4 linked regions of the Homo sapiens genome follow. The protein of the gene in region 4 purifies or fractionates together with the protein of the main gene of each other region. This does not show direct contact. Each region holds a gene or a part of one and is shown on either strand. Other genes may lie near its edges.

Region 1 (4,022 bases), on a different chromosome or scaffold from region 4:
GCCTCGCAGGTCTTTTTACATTGAGAAAACTAAAATCCAGAGGTAAGTAATTTGCCCAAAGTGGGCAATGTCAAGGGAATGTGTGTTGATGGGGACCCTGATTGGGTGGGCTGGAGTGAGAAAACCTCAGCCTTGAGACCAAGCACTGTGGCTCACGTCTGAAATCACAGCACTTGGGGAGGCTGAGGAGGGAGGATCGCCCGAGCCCAGGCGCTAGAGACCAGCCTGGACAACGTAGCGAAATCCTGTCTCAAATTTTTAAAAAAGAAAACAAAAACAAAAACAGCAAAGAAAAAAGTTAAGTCTCTGAATATTGTCCGGAGACTATGTGTGTGACTTACACGTTCACTAAGGTTGGTTTGAAGGAGTGGTTGTGCCTTACGGGTATACAGTGAATTTCCTCTTCTCTAGAGTTTTGGCCACACAGCCAGAGCCCACTGGTGGTATTCATGTGGGAACTGTGAAATCTCCTGCATCTTCGGTGTTGCCAGAAAAAAATGTGCTTGTTGTACTTTTCCACATTAAGAGTCTCATTCTATTTGAATTCTTTGAAGCTTAAGCTGTGAATGCTCTCTAGGGCAACCCTCTTTATAAAAACTTAATTTTCAGTTATGCCATACATGGACAAATGTATTTTCTTTAAAAAAGAATAGAACATTGTAGATTAAGTGAAAGTCCCATCCTAATTGCCATCATCTCCTGTCTGTACCTGAGAGGTGACCATTGTTCTCAGTTTGGGATGGACCGTTTTAGTTCTGTTTTCACATTTTATTCATATATGTACTCAGGAAACATATACTTCCTTATATAAGTGTGCTCATGTTTCCCTAGCGTAGTATATTCTCTAGCTTTCTTTTGTTCCTTTTATTTTTATTTATTTATTTTTTTGAGACGTAGTTTCACTCTTTTGCCCAGGCTGGAGTGCAGTGGTGCGATCTTGGCTCACTGCAAGCTCCACCTCCTGGGTTGACGCCATTCTTCTTTCTGCCTCAGCCTCCTGAGTAGCTGGGACTACAGGTGCCTGCCACCACACCTGACTAATTTTTTGTATTTTTAGTAGAGATGGCATTTCACCGTGTTAGCCAGGTTGGTCTTGATCTCCTGACCTCATGATCTGCCTGCCTCGGCCTACCAAAGTGCTGAGATTACAGGGGTGAACCACTGCGCCCAGCCACGCCTGGCCAATTTTTAAAATTTTTTGTAGAGACAGTCTGGCTGTGTTGCCCAGGCTGGTGTGGAACTCCTGGCCTCAAGCAATCCTCCCACCCGGGCCTCCCAAAGTGCTGGGATTTCAGGCATGAGGCACCGAGCCTGGCTGGATTTTATATTGAAACTATTCCTGTCAAAATATCTGATTGACCGGAACATTCTGTCCTCTGACTATGCAGGATAAGGGTTTTTTTCAGGGCCTGTTCTTAGGTCATGAAGCTCAATGATTGTGACATCCAGCGAGAACGGCAGTGAGTGTGGTAAGTGTGCTTGGTCGTCCAGCCTGATTTCTCGGGATCGATTAATACATGGATAGAAATATGTACAGATGACCACGGCGTATCCTGGCTCTGCCGTATACAGTCCTGCGGCCCTACATTGACTCTTTAGAACGAGGGTGAGTCACGCTTCACTTGCGGCTCATCCCATGGCATTCCATACATTCCATTCGGTTCGGAAGCTCCGTGCTGTTTGTCCGCGTTGACCTGGCGATGACTCCTTGAGTGTCATTGAGGCAGGTCCAGGGCCTTTGCTGACCCTCGGGGCTCCTTCACCCCTGCCCCGAGCCTTCCCCTCTTGCCTGGGCGACTTCCATGCACCCTGGGCTCCCATCAACCCTTACCTGCAGCTGCTCGCTCATGTCAGGTCTGTTCTCTGTGTGAATACGTTGGTCAGAATTCATTGCGCTGTCACTTAAAGTTTATACTTTTTTTTTTTTGAGATGGAGTCTCGCTCTTGTTGTCCAGGCTGGAGTGCGATGGCGCGATCTCGGCTCACCGCAACCTCCTCCTCCCGGGTTCAAGCAATTCTCTTGCCTCAGCCTCCTGAGTAGCTGGGATTACAGGCATGCGTCACCACACCTGGCTAATTTTGTATTTTCAGTAGAGACGGGGTTTCTCCATGTTGGTCAGGCTGGTCTCGAACTCCCAACCTCAGGTGATCTGCCCACCTTGGCCTCCCAAAGCACTGGGATTACAGGCGTGAGCCACCGCGCCCGGCTGGTTCTGGTGATTCTTGTGCCTCAGCCTCCCCAGTAGCTGGGATTACAGGCGTGTGCCACCACACCTGGCTAATTTTTGTATTTTTAGTAGAGACGAAGTTTCGCCATGTTGGCCAGGAAGGATGATCTCAAACTCCTGACCTCATGTGATCCACTTGCTTTGGCCTCCCAAAGTGCTGGGATTACAGGGGTGATCCACCCCACTGGGCCTATTTATACATTTTGAGCAGGGTGTGGTGGCTCACACCTGTAATCCTAACACTTTGGGAGGTTAAGGCAGGAGGATCACTTCAGGCCAGGAGTTTGAGGCCAGCCTGGGCAATAGAGTGAGACCCCATCCCTATTTAAAAAAAAGATTTGTGTCTGGGCCTGGTGGTTCACGCCTGTAATCCCAGCACTTTGGGAGGCCGAGGTGGGCGGATCACCTGAGGTCAGGAATTCAAGACCAGCCTGGCCAACATGGTGAAACCCCGTCTGTACAAAAATCCAATAATTAGCTGGGCATAATGGCGAGTGCCTGTAATCCCAGCTACTCGGGAGGCTGAGGTGGGAGAATTGCGTTAACCTGGGAGGCAGAGGTTGTAGAGGTTGTAGTGAGCCGAGATGGTGCCGCGCTGCAGCCTGGTTGACAGAACAAGACTCCAGCTCAAAAAAAAAAAAAAAAAAAAATTTGTTCATTTTATGGTGATTAAATTATGCCCCACAGTATTGTTTGCATTAGGGACAAAACCTTCTGCCCCATTTCGCTCCCTTCCATGACCCTTTTTTTTTTTTTTTTTTTTTTGAGACAGAGTCTCACTCTGTTGCCCAGGCTGGAGTGCAGTGGTGCCATCTAGCCTCACTGCAACCTCCATCTCCTAGGTTCAAGTGACTCCTGCCTCAGTCTCCCCCGTAGTTGGGATTACAGGCGTGTGCCACCATGCCCAGCTAATTTTTGTATTTTTAGTAGAGTCGGGGTTTTACCATGTTGACCAGGCTGGTCTCGAACTCCTGACTTCAGGTGATCCGCCCGCTGCAGCCTCCCAAAGTGCTGGGATTACAGGTGTGAGCCACCGTGACTGGCCATGACACATATTTTGGTAGTAAACTCCTGATGAGCAAACTTATTTTTATTTTTTTTACAAGTTTATTTTGTTTATATAGTTTTGTTACTTTTTTCTTTTTTTAATTCTGGCTCTCTCCAGAAAACAGAAACCTATTTTTCTTTAACCACAGTATCTAGAATACTATCTGCTATGTAGCAGAGTCTCAAATATTTGAATAGAATTACATTTTTATAAATTTTTGTATTATATTTCTTATGTGATAAGACTTGACAACACTGCAAATATGTTTTGTTACTGGTCTTTAAACTTGCTCATCCTCTCTCTCTCTCTGTCTCTCTCTCACACACACACACACGCACACATACACAATTTGCAAGGTAAAACGTGTCAATTTGAAGAAAGAGGAACTAACTGAATCACTGTTATGTAGAACAGATTTTGCCAGAATTTGTGGTTAGCAAGAAAGTGATGTGTTCCGGGTAGGGGAATTCTGTTTTGGTATTATTTTGTCTTTCCTGAGAAAAGCATCACAAAAAGAGATGTTTGCCCATCCTGTTTGCTGGGGTAGTGGGAAGAGACCGGGGGTGATGGTGGTGCTGGCTGGACGTGGGTGGTTTCACAGGACCTGCTGTGTCTGAGAGGAGCCATGCGGTGATTAGAAGCTTGGAGGCTGCAGGTAGGAGGCACAGAGCCCGAGAGTGCATGGAGAGCCTGGCTGTCGGTCTCCAGCATTGTCACTGTCACCTTTTTTTTTTTTTTTTTTTTTT
Region 2 (4,022 bases), on a different chromosome or scaffold from region 4:
CTAGGGGAAAGAGTCATCAGGGATTTATTACTTCTTTCTACTAGCTTTAAACTTAGTTTATTCTTATTTTCCTAGTTTTAAGGTATAAAGGCAGGCTGTTGAATTGAGATCTTTCTTTTTTAATGTAAATGTTTATGGCTATAAATTTTCCTATTAGCACTACTTTCAATACATTCCCCAAGTTTTGATATGTTGTGCTTTTATTTGCCTTTCTCTCAAGATATCTGTTCATTTCCCTTGTGATTTTTTTCATTGCCCCATGGGTGATTTAGGAATATATTGCTTAACTCCACGTGTTTGTGGATTTTCACGTCTTCCTTCCACTACTAATTTCTAGTTCCATTCCATTTTGATCAGAAAAAAATACTCTGTATGGTTTCAATCTTTTTTTTTTTTTTTTTTTTTTGAGACAGGGTGATATGGTTTGGATCTCTGTACCCACCCAAATCTCATGTATAACTGTAATCCCCAAAGTTGGAGGTGGGGCCTGATATAAGGTGATTGGCTCATGGGGATGGTTTCTCATGACTAGCTTAGCACTATCCCCCAATGCTGTTCTTGTGATAGAGTTCTAACGAGATCTGATTGTTTAAGTGTATTTGGCACCTCTCCCTTCTCTCTCTCTTCTTCCTGCTCTGGCCATGTGAGATGTCTCACTCCCCCTTTGCCTTCTACCATGATTGAAAGCTTACTGAGGCCGCCCAAAAGCAGAAGCTGCTATGCTTCCTGTACAGCCTACGGAACTGTGAACCAATTAAATATCTTTTCTTTATAAGTTACCCAGTCTCAGGTATTTCTGTTTTGTTGTTGTTGTTTTTCAGGTGTTTCTTTATAGCAATGCAAGAATGGACTGATACATAGGGTCTCACTCTGTTGCCTGGACTGGAATGCAGTGGTGTGATCACAGCTCACTGCAGCCTCAACCTGCTGGGTTCAATGGATCTTCCCAGCCCAGCCTCCCAAGTAGCTGGGACTATAGGCACACGCCACCATCCCCAGCTAATTTTTGTATTTTTTTTGAGATGAAGTTTCACCATGTTGCTCAGACAGGCTCGAACTTTTGGGCTCAAATGATCTGCCTGCCTCAGCTTTCCAAGATCTTGGGATTACAGGTATGAGCCACTATGCCTGGATGCTTCAATGTTTTTATATTTATTAAGACTTGTTTTGTGAAAAGATAATTCCTTCTTAAAGACAGCACAATAAAGGCATTTTTGTTTTTCTGAATGAGGTTTTAATTTTTTTATTTTTTAAGAGATAGTATCTTGCTCAGTTGCCCAAGCTGAACTCAAACTTCTAAGCTCAAGTAATTCTCCTGCCTCGACCTCCTGAGTAGGTGCAATTACAGATGTGCACCATCATGTGTGGCTTGAATGAGATTGTTAAACTTCAATATAAAATTACAGTTAAAAAAAAAAAACCCAATCAGAAGATGAGGAAAAAAAAAAAGACAAGAGGCATGTCTTATTTGCTGTATAGGGGCAAATAAGCACATAAAAATAAGTTCAAAATTATTAGCCGTGAGGGAAATAAAAATTAAACTTACAATTAGATATCAGTACACATGTATAAGAATATAAAAAAATGAAGAAAAGCAACAATAGCAAATGCTGATAACACAGAGCAAATGAATCACTCATATATTGCTAGTTGGAATTTAAAATAGTATAACCACTCTGGACTGGCAGTGTTTCATAAAACTAAGCATGGATTATCATATAATCCAGCAACTATACTCTTAGGAATTTGTCCCAGAGAAATGAAATCCTACTTTCACTCAAAAATCTGTAAACAAATATTCATAGAGGCATTATTTACAATAGTCAAAAATTGGAAATAACCCAAATGTCCCTCAATAGGAGAGTTAACAAACCCACTGGTGCCTTTATTCCATGGAATACTACTCAGTAATAAAAAGGAATGGATATATGCAACAACTTGCATGAACTGCAAGGGAATTATGCTGAATAAAAAAGATTAATCTGAAAGGGTTATATATTATATAACTTTATCCATATAACATTCTCAAAATGACAAAATTATAGAGATACAGAATAGATAGCAGTTTCCAGAAAGTAGAGATGGTGAGAAGAAATAGCATGAGGTAGTCTTGTGGTGATGGAAGAGTTATGTATCTTGAGTGTGGTGATGACTACATGAATCTACATATGTGGTTAGTGTAATAAAACTGCACACAGAGGCCGGGCGCGGTGGCTCACACCTGTAATCCCAGCACTTTGGGAGACTGTGGCGGGTGGATCACCCGAGGTCAGGAGTTCAAGACCAGCCTGACCAACATGGAGAAACCCCGTCTCCACTAAAAATACAAAATTAGCCGGGTGTGGTGATGCATGCCTGTAATCCCAGCTACTCGGGAGGCTGAGGCAGGAGAATTGCTTGAACCCGGGAGGTGGAGGTTGCAGTGAGCAGAGATCGCGCCATTGCACTCCAGCCTGGGCAACAAGAGTGAAACTCTGTCTCAAAAATAAAAATAAAAACAAAAACAAAAAACTACATACATGTACATGAACATGCAAGTGAATGCATGTAAAACTGGCAAAATCTGAATACACTCTCAGCAAATGTCAATTTACTGGTTTTGAAGATGTTACCATTTAGGGAAACTGTGTAAAGGGGACTTTCTATGTTTTTGGTAGCTTCTTCTAAATCTGTAATTATTTAAAAATAAAAAGTTTTGAAAAGAAAATAGCTACCTAAATTTTGAAGTAAAGTAATATATATCTTTTAACATTTGTACTTTATCAAAAATCCTGGTTTACAAAGTTAGTATTTGCTTTAAAACGTAGGATATATTGTTTGTAGAACAACTCCACATGTTTTATAAATATAGCACAACTGCAGCACTGAGGTTAACTGTGTTGCCCTACTACAGTAAGACACTATGCATCATTATTGTAGGACCTTAAGTACCTGCAAAAGCCATGCAGACATGGTCATCAAGGGCACAAATTTTCCTCACAGTTCTTTCATCTTGAAGCTTGGCAACAGATTTTTTTTCTACCCCAAGAACAACTATATTGGTACCTCGAATTCCGACCTGTCAAGTCATTAAAATACATATATATTCAGATGTCAGTTTAAAATATAAAACCAAGTTATTCTAACATATGACTTAGGGGAAATGACTTCTCCTTAAGTATTCAATAAAAACAAGAAAAGTAACTTTCTAGAAAACAGCTTCATAGGTATAGGCTTACTGGAGATCCATTCCCCAGACTCAAAGCAAGGAAGACAAATAGGTAGAAATTGCAAAGAAAATACCACCAATGCTGAAATTATGAGTGTCCTAATCTCATACAATACACCTGAAAAAAGCACTATCTAAATACGGTAAGTTCTCAATGTCATTGACAGGTTCTTGAAAATTGCAACTATAAGCAAATGATGTATAATGAAACCAATTTTATCACACCCCAATTAATATAAACAGGAGTTAGGTTCATATGAAATATTTCTGGTCACAAAAACATCCCCAAACTTCTAAACAAATACCTAAAACACCTCTAATATTAAACACTGAAATAAATGTGAGCTGTATATATAACAAACACTAACAAAAACAAGTATGATAAGGCTGGGCACGGTGGCTCACAGCACTATAATCCTAGCACTTTGGGAGGCTGAGGCAGGAGGACGACTTGAGGTCTGGAGTTCGAGACCAGCCTGGCCAACATGGTGAAACCCCGTCTCTACTAAAAACACAAAAATTAGCCGGGCATAGTGGCAGGCACCTGTAGTCCCAGCAACTCAGGAGGCTGAGCCAGGAGAATCGCTGGAACCCAGGAAGCAGAGCTTGCAGTAAGCAGAGATTGCGCCACTGCACTCCAGCCTGGGCAACAGAGCGAGACTCAAGCTCAAAAAAAAAAGAAAGTATGATAATTATTTATCCAATTTTTGGTGAATCCATGAGTGACAGCAGTCATAGTGGTGGTGGGTTAAATCAAAGAATAAACGTTTGCAAAGCAAAAATTTTAAAGAGCATCTCCTACCACCATTCAGTT
Region 3 (4,022 bases), about 39 Mb from region 4:
ATTTGATTATACTCATGATAAAAATGCCAAAACTGGTAATAAATGTTGAATTTCATATATATTACTTCTTTGCAAGCACAAAAATACTAACCTTCAAATTCAACTGAGACTTTCCAGTGTAAATTCTGGAGGTGACGACGAAGCTTATGGCTATTACAAGCTCTGAATTTTTCCTTAGGGCACAATGGACAAGCCTGTCTGTTGCCTTAAAAAGAAAAAAGAATCAATAAACAACAGAATATTCTAGTTATTAATGCCTGGATTCAACTACAAAGAGGTTAATGGGGGCTCCCCCTCCTACTTCTTAAAGTCTTTCTTAACTTTAGGGAGAAGTCATTATTCTTGACCCAGGAGACAGTTAACAGTAATTGTTGCAGCACATGATCAGTGATTGTTTTTTCACCCTAAAATTTCCCTCTCTGTAGCTAGTGGATGCATTTGTCGTTACTGGGAACAAAGGTTGAAGAAGTGATAAACTGTATGACATCCTTCCGGCCAAATTTTCTGCCACTGAGAGCATCACTCTGTATTTTGGACAGCTGAAAGGACAGCAGTTACACTCCCAAAAGGACAGGGATTGGACAAAGAGCAAAAGTATGTGCTGTGGTATTCCTCTACTAAACTGGCAACAACAAAAACAGTTAACATGTGGAGTTAGAAAAATGGAAGAAGGAAGTGGAAGGAATAGATGGGATTTGATATAACCGCTGTTCTGAGACGGGGCGCATAGTTACAGCCACCGTATCCATTACTGAATTTACAAGTTCTGCCTTCTTTATTAACATATTCTCAAAAAGATTATGTATCATAAAAATGTCTTATTTAATTAGAAATATAATGTATCTCAAATAAAAACTTTGATAGTATAGATGAAAGAATTAAATTTCAAATTCAGGTTTAAAGCAATAAAATATACAGCAAGAATCATTAATAACTCATTTAGTAATTTTTTTCTTTTTTCTCTTATACCTACATACCTGTCAGCTCATATTAATAATTTTTAACCCAACAAATATCTTTCACATACAGTACAATAGAGTATAGGTACAATTTTTATTTTTACACTGTCTACTTCAAAAAAACCACGCAGTCAGCGATCTTGAGGATACAAACCAAACACTAAGGAGAGTAGAGCAGAAAGAGAGCAGTGTGGGGCACTGATAACGTGGAACTCTCATACCAGCCCTAAATTGCCTATCTTGGGACTTCATTTACCTGACAGAATATTAACCTCTTAAGACACTGTTTTTTGGGACCTCTGTTACTTGTAGCCAAATGCCATTCCTAACTTGCCGAATAGACAGCCCCTAGACATCCGTGAAATTATAATTTTCTTGAGGAGTTGTAAAATAACTTATTTCCATAGCAACTTTGCACATAAGCGGTTGCCAATTTCCTGAATAAAAAACTGTATTTTACCACTGTTCTAGTTCAGTAAGAATAAACAAGTCTACTCTTACCAAACTTATTTTTGTGAATTGAAAGATGATAAATTATTAGAAACTAAGAAAAAAAAAAAACCCAAACATGGAAATACCTGCATCAAGATTATCTGAGTTCAATGAGCTGGCAGAGTCAAAATTTCCATCAGTTACAAAAGCTAAATTCTCTAGATCAGCAAGCTGCCTTTGAATTGAGATGTGTCTCTCTGAAAAAAAAAATTGAGAAGATTATGCTTTAACAGTTTGTATTCTAGTTCCATTTTTATTGATCACATCGTATAGAAGTTTATTTCCTATAACACAGTGTTATGGACCTAGATGGGGAATACTGCCACAACTCGGTTTATAAAATAACAAGTGTGCTTTAGAATGAAAAGTTGGGGGGAGACCCCACTGTATAAACTTAGTTTTAAAATTTTATCTAATTAGTCAAAATAATTCTATGAAAAATGTTTCTGTCCTATACAAAATACTGAAGGAAACGTTAAGTCATGTTTTCTATCTTCAAAGAACTTTCAATCAGGTGGGAGAAGGCAATATGTCAACTTCTAACTATCATATGAGATAGGATGAAATGAACACTATTAAGTAGAGATTTGCTAACTGGCCTCATGAACTGAAGTAACCTCATGAACAAATCCATGTGTAGAAAACATACAACCATGCCACCCCACCCTTGGCTGGAATGTGGTATGTTTGGGGGGATGGAGTCAGTAGAAGTATGTGCAGCTGAAGATGCAGTACAGACCAAGGAAAACATAAATTCTACGCAAGTTAGTTTGAACTTTATTCTTCAAATAATGGTAAGTCTCTGCAGGTTTTTGAGGAAGTGAATTATACGATCTGAATGAGTTTCAGGAGGCTATCTCTGCCAGTAATACCAAAGATCAGTAACAGAGAAAATTAGCAATGGGAAGGGACAGAATAGAAGGTTAAAAAAATAAGCAACAGAACTTGGGATATGAGAAGTAAAGGTGAAGGATAAAATCAAAGATGATTCCAAGATTTTGAGTTTATGTGGTTGAGAATAATGGTATATTAAGCAAACAAGACAGAAGAAACTCTTATGGCAGAAAGGAAGGGGAAAAGAGAAAGGAAAATTTAGTTTTTGACATGGTGTGTTTGATGTACTACTGGTACAGTATTCCAGCAATAATGTATAATAGGCAGCTGGCAATTTGTTTTTGGAGCTCAGGAGGGATTCTAGAGATACAAATCGTAAGTAACACATTAGGTGAAACTATGAGAATAAATAAGAAAGCCTAAGAAAAAAAGTGTGAAAAATAAGAGAAAAAGCCAAGACCCAGTCTTACCTAGTTATGACTGATTTCAAACAACCAACTAGGCTATGTAAAATTAATTTTAAAATGTGATTTATATTTTAATTCTAATGCATTTCAAATTTCTCAATCATTACATATTTGTCCCACTAATGCATTTTCAGGTTTCTCAAGCATTACACACTCTTCAAATTAAATTAAATTTGGAAATACATGAATAAGTCTAAAATAAGTTTAACATGTTCTGACTGGGGTGGGTAGGGGATACATTCCCTACCTGTTGCTGAACCCGCTACTGATTATTATAGATAGATATAATCTGGTAGTGAGGTATGAGAGATGTAGATATTTATAAGAAAAATTAAGTAGAAGGAATCAGGAATGTAGATTCAGAAAGAATAAATGGTAAGGGGAATCAAGGTAATGCAGAAGCCAAGGGAGAAGAGTCTATAAACGCAAAACGTTCAACACTGAATATCACAAACAGTTGTAGAGATCAAGAAAGCACATCTGGTGACCTTTAAGAAAACAGGTTCAGGGAGGTGTTTCAGAGTAGAAACAGAATTGGAAGGGGAAAGGAAATACAGAAAATTAGGTTTTTCTTTTTTTGAGAAGTTTGACGGTATAAAAAAGGAAATGAATCAGACTGTAACTTGCTTTTTTTTAAGTATGGGGAACCTGAATATATGTGCATTCCAAGAGAAAGGAACAATTACAAAGTGGGGACTGAATATATATTAAGATTAGGAGAAACTGATATGTAAAGAGCCCAAGGAGACAGGAGATGGTGGGATAAACCACAGGGCTCTCTAATATTATGTTATTAGGTTATACAATTTAAAACCTTGAGACTTTAAAATTCAATTCTTGATATTAGCACCTTCTTGACTACTCCTCTCCGAGCTTCACTATCAGTTCGTTTACCCATTTGTATAATTTGTGTCCTTGTTCGCTTTCCCCACAAATAATCAACAGAAGACAAGGCCTATTTCTTGTTCATCTTTCTGATGGCTAAGTGCCTAATGCAGTAGCTTGCAGATAGGAGGCACTAAAGTTTGTTAAACAAGAAGTTAAAAAAATTGTTAGACTTTTTGGATGCAGTAGCACACTGTGTCAATAATTTTGGAATCCAATTCAGCACTATCAGACACTCCTGCTCAAATTTATTAAAAGGTAATTTTTCATATTATTATTATTTAAAGATGGGTCTTGCTCTGTCACCCAGCCTCCATGGAATGTAGTGGCTCAATCATAGCTCACTGCAGCCTCAAACTCCTGGGCTCAAGCAATCCTCCTGCCT
Region 4 (2,851 bases):
CTGGGGTCTCCAGTGAATACTGACTGGTTTTAAAGGGGGGTGAGGGTTTTAAAGGAGAGGAAGGAAGGGGCTGGGCCAAAGTTGTTCAGTGGCTTGGATATCTCCTGAGTAGTGGGAACTATTTAATAGCTTTTTCAGGTAGAATCTGAGAATGTGTTGGACCATAACTAAGGCTCTAGCTTGCAGATGCTGGATCGGGGAATGGGGTGGGGTCATGGGCGTGGTGGGAATAGCTTGAAGCATCCCATGCATTTGAAAGAAGGGCAGTCAATGAAAGGGCCCATCACCTACCAGGGTTCCAATCGATGGCATTGTCAATCGGACCTGACATCTGATATTTGTCTGAATAACGCTCCACATCTGAGGGGTGGAAGGGTCAAAGTTTTATCCCTTCAGAGACCCAGAACAGGACTGTTCCTGAGAGTCCAGCCCTCTCAATACTGAGGAATTATCTGTTTCCTTACCCCAAACCCAGAGCCCAGGGGGTCAGCTTCAGTGAGGACCTTATCTACTTTTTTTTTTTTTTTTTTTGAGACAGAGTCTCGCTCTGTCCCTCAGGCTGGAGTGCAGTGGTACAATCTCAGCTTACTGCAACCTCCACCTCCCAGGTTCAAGCGATTCTCCTGCCTCAGTCTCCTGAGTAGCTGGGACTACAGGCACACACCACCACGCCTAGCTAATTTTTGTATTTTTAGTAGAGACGGGGTTTCACCATGTTGGCCAGGATGGTCTCAATCTCCTGACCTCGTGATCCACCTACCTCGGCCTCCCAAAGTGCTGGGATTACAGGCGTGAATTACTGCGCCCGGCCCCTTATCACTCTTCTAACCTGTTCCTTTTCCACCCAAAATTACGATTTTTTTTTTTCAGACAGAATCTCGCACTGTCGCCTGGGCTGGAGTGCAGTGGCGTGATCTCAGCCCACTGCAACCTCCGCCTCCCAAGTTCAAGCAATTCTTGCCTCAGCCTCCCAAGCAGCTGGGATTAGAGGCATCTGCCACCAGGCCTGGCTAATTTTTTTGTATTTTTTGTAGAGACGGGGTTTCACTATGTTGGCCAAGCTGGTCTTGAACTCCTGACCTCGTGATCTGCCCACCTCAGCCTCCCAAAGTGCTGGGATTCTAGGTGTGAGCCACCACACCTGGCCTTTTTTTTTTGAGACAGAGGTTTGCTGTGTCACCCAGGCTAGAGTGCAGTGGCAAGATCTCAGCTCACTGCAACCTCCACCTCCCAGGTTCAAGCGATTCTCATGCCTCAGCCTCAGCCTCAGCCTCCCGAGTAGCTGAGACCACAGGCACACACCACTGTGCCTGGCTAATTTTTATATTTTTAGTAGAGACAGGGTTTCACCGTATTGGCTAGGCTGGCCTCAAACTCCTGGCCTCAAGTGATCCACCCATGTCAGCCTCCCAAAGTGCTGGCCATTACAGGCGTAAGCCACCGCACCCGGCCATGATGATTTTTTTTTTTTCTGTCCCTTAGTTCAAAGGCATGGCTGTATTAAGAAATAGCGTGGTGCAGTGGAAAGTATGCTAGGGAATAAGAAACCAGGATTTCAGTATTCTCTTGTTGGTTGGTGCTTATAATATCCAGATTGTTAAAAATTTTGCTGGGCGCAGTGGCTCATGCCTGTAATCCCAGCACTTTGGGAGGCCAAGGCAGGAGAATCTCTTGAGCCCAGAAGTTCAAGACCAGCCTGGACAACATAAGGACACCCTATCTCTATTTTACAAAAAAATAAAAAATATATAATTTTTTAGAAAATACATCCCCCTACTTATACACGTGAAATGGGATTTTAATATTTAACCTCCTGCTGTCCCAAGACTATCATGAGACTCAAAACAAACCATGAATACTATAATGCATTTCAGATACAGGGGTAACTATTATGATCTCCCCAGTTAGATAGTATGCTTCCTGTGCCCCTCTGGCCCCCAGTGGTGCTGAGCACAGGGCACTCCCCATGGAAGGCACTCAGAATATGATGCTAGCATTCCAACTGACCTCTCTTGGGGACAGCTGGCCGGATGAAGTAGGGGAGCTGCCTCATGGCTCCTCGTAGCTCTTGCTTCAGTGCCAGGACATATTCCCCTTCCTCGCCTGAGGGCAAAGGTACTGGGCGGAACTCCAAGGGCTAAAGAGGCAGGGGCAGTGGTCAGTTCAGGGAGAAAATGCTAGTACAAATTTAGGAAGACCCCTCCTCCCAATTTAGTCTAACACTCCCACTGAGCAGAGGGCCAAATGACAATCGAGGGAGTAACATATTATTTTGAAAGCTGGGGAGAAGTAAAGGTGGACACTTCTTTGCCTGCAAAACATCCCTGTGCATTGGGAGTATAGAGAGAGGGCCAAAGCGAGGATGGTTTTATGATGGTCCAGGAGGAATTCAGAATCATGTACAGTCAGCCAGGGGCACATGAGAGTCTGGGAAGGGAGTGGAGAGACTCACAGGGAAGAGTGGAGAAGGCTGCAGGGTGGGTGGGGGCAAAGCATCCCCTTTCCCAATGCCCACGGCCTCCACGTTGAAGGTCAACTGGCCCCGGCCACGACCCCGGCCCCCACCCCGGCTGGCCATGGTGGAGGGGGCCTGGGTATTCAGAGATCCAGTGAATAAACCTAATAAAGACAAAAACAAAGAGAAAAAGAAATGTAGTAGAATGGACAGGAAGCCAAGGAGGTACAAGACATTCAATCTTTTATCTCTGGGACATGAAAAGTTAATGTCATTCAACAAATTTTGACTGAGAAGGCACAGTGTCAGAGAGAGAATTTCTGGAAATATAAACATGAATGAGACATGGTCCCCCAAACAGGTCAGATAATTACAATATAGTTTAGCACAAAGGAG

The links.
Region 1: the proteins of POLR3GL (region 4) and SNX8 purify together in Homo sapiens (affinity purification with mass spectrometry; one large-scale study listed by BioGRID and IntAct). This does not show direct contact.
Region 2: the proteins of POLR3GL (region 4) and PSMA8 purify together in Homo sapiens (affinity purification with mass spectrometry; one large-scale study listed by BioGRID and IntAct). This does not show direct contact.
Region 3: the proteins of POLR3GL (region 4) and TRMT1L purify together in Homo sapiens (affinity purification with mass spectrometry; one large-scale study listed by BioGRID and IntAct). This does not show direct contact.

Annotation. Positions count from the first base shown.
Region 1 is NC_000007.14:2,307,637-2,311,658, reverse strand, and holds part of SNX8 (sorting nexin-8), read left to right. Parts: intron 1-1,585; exon of another isoform or gene 1,586-1,606; intron 1,607-1,702; exon of another isoform or gene 1,703-1,802; coding exon of another isoform or gene 1,803-1,854; intron 1,855-4,022. UniProt on the Homo sapiens protein: May be involved in several stages of intracellular trafficking. May play a role in intracellular protein transport from early endosomes to the trans-Golgi network.
Region 2 is NC_000018.10:26,143,595-26,147,616, reverse strand, and holds part of PSMA8 (proteasome subunit alpha-type 8), read right to left. Parts: intron 3,059-4,022; coding exon 2,932-3,058; intron 1-2,931. UniProt on the Homo sapiens protein: Component of the spermatoproteasome, a proteasome specifically found in testis that promotes acetylation-dependent degradation of histones, thereby participating actively to the exchange of histones during spermatogenesis.
Region 3 is NC_000001.11:185,150,288-185,154,309, forward strand, and holds part of TRMT1L (tRNA (guanine(27)-N(2))-dimethyltransferase), read right to left. Parts: intron 1,649-4,022; coding exon 1,538-1,648; intron 206-1,537; coding exon 92-205; intron 1-91. UniProt on the Homo sapiens protein: Specifically dimethylates a single guanine residue at position 27 of tRNA(Tyr) using S-adenosyl-L-methionine as donor of the methyl groups. Dimethylation at position 27 of tRNA(Tyr) is required for efficient translation of tyrosine codons.
Region 4 is NC_000001.11:145,974,593-145,977,443, reverse strand, and holds part of POLR3GL (DNA-directed RNA polymerase III subunit RPC7-like), read right to left. Parts: intron 2,620-2,851; 5' UTR 2,579-2,619; coding exon 2,453-2,578; intron 2,138-2,452; coding exon 2,008-2,137; intron 361-2,007; coding exon 292-360; intron 1-291. UniProt on the Homo sapiens protein: DNA-dependent RNA polymerase catalyzes the transcription of DNA into RNA using the four ribonucleoside triphosphates as substrates. Specific peripheric component of RNA polymerase III which synthesizes small RNAs, such as 5S rRNA and tRNAs.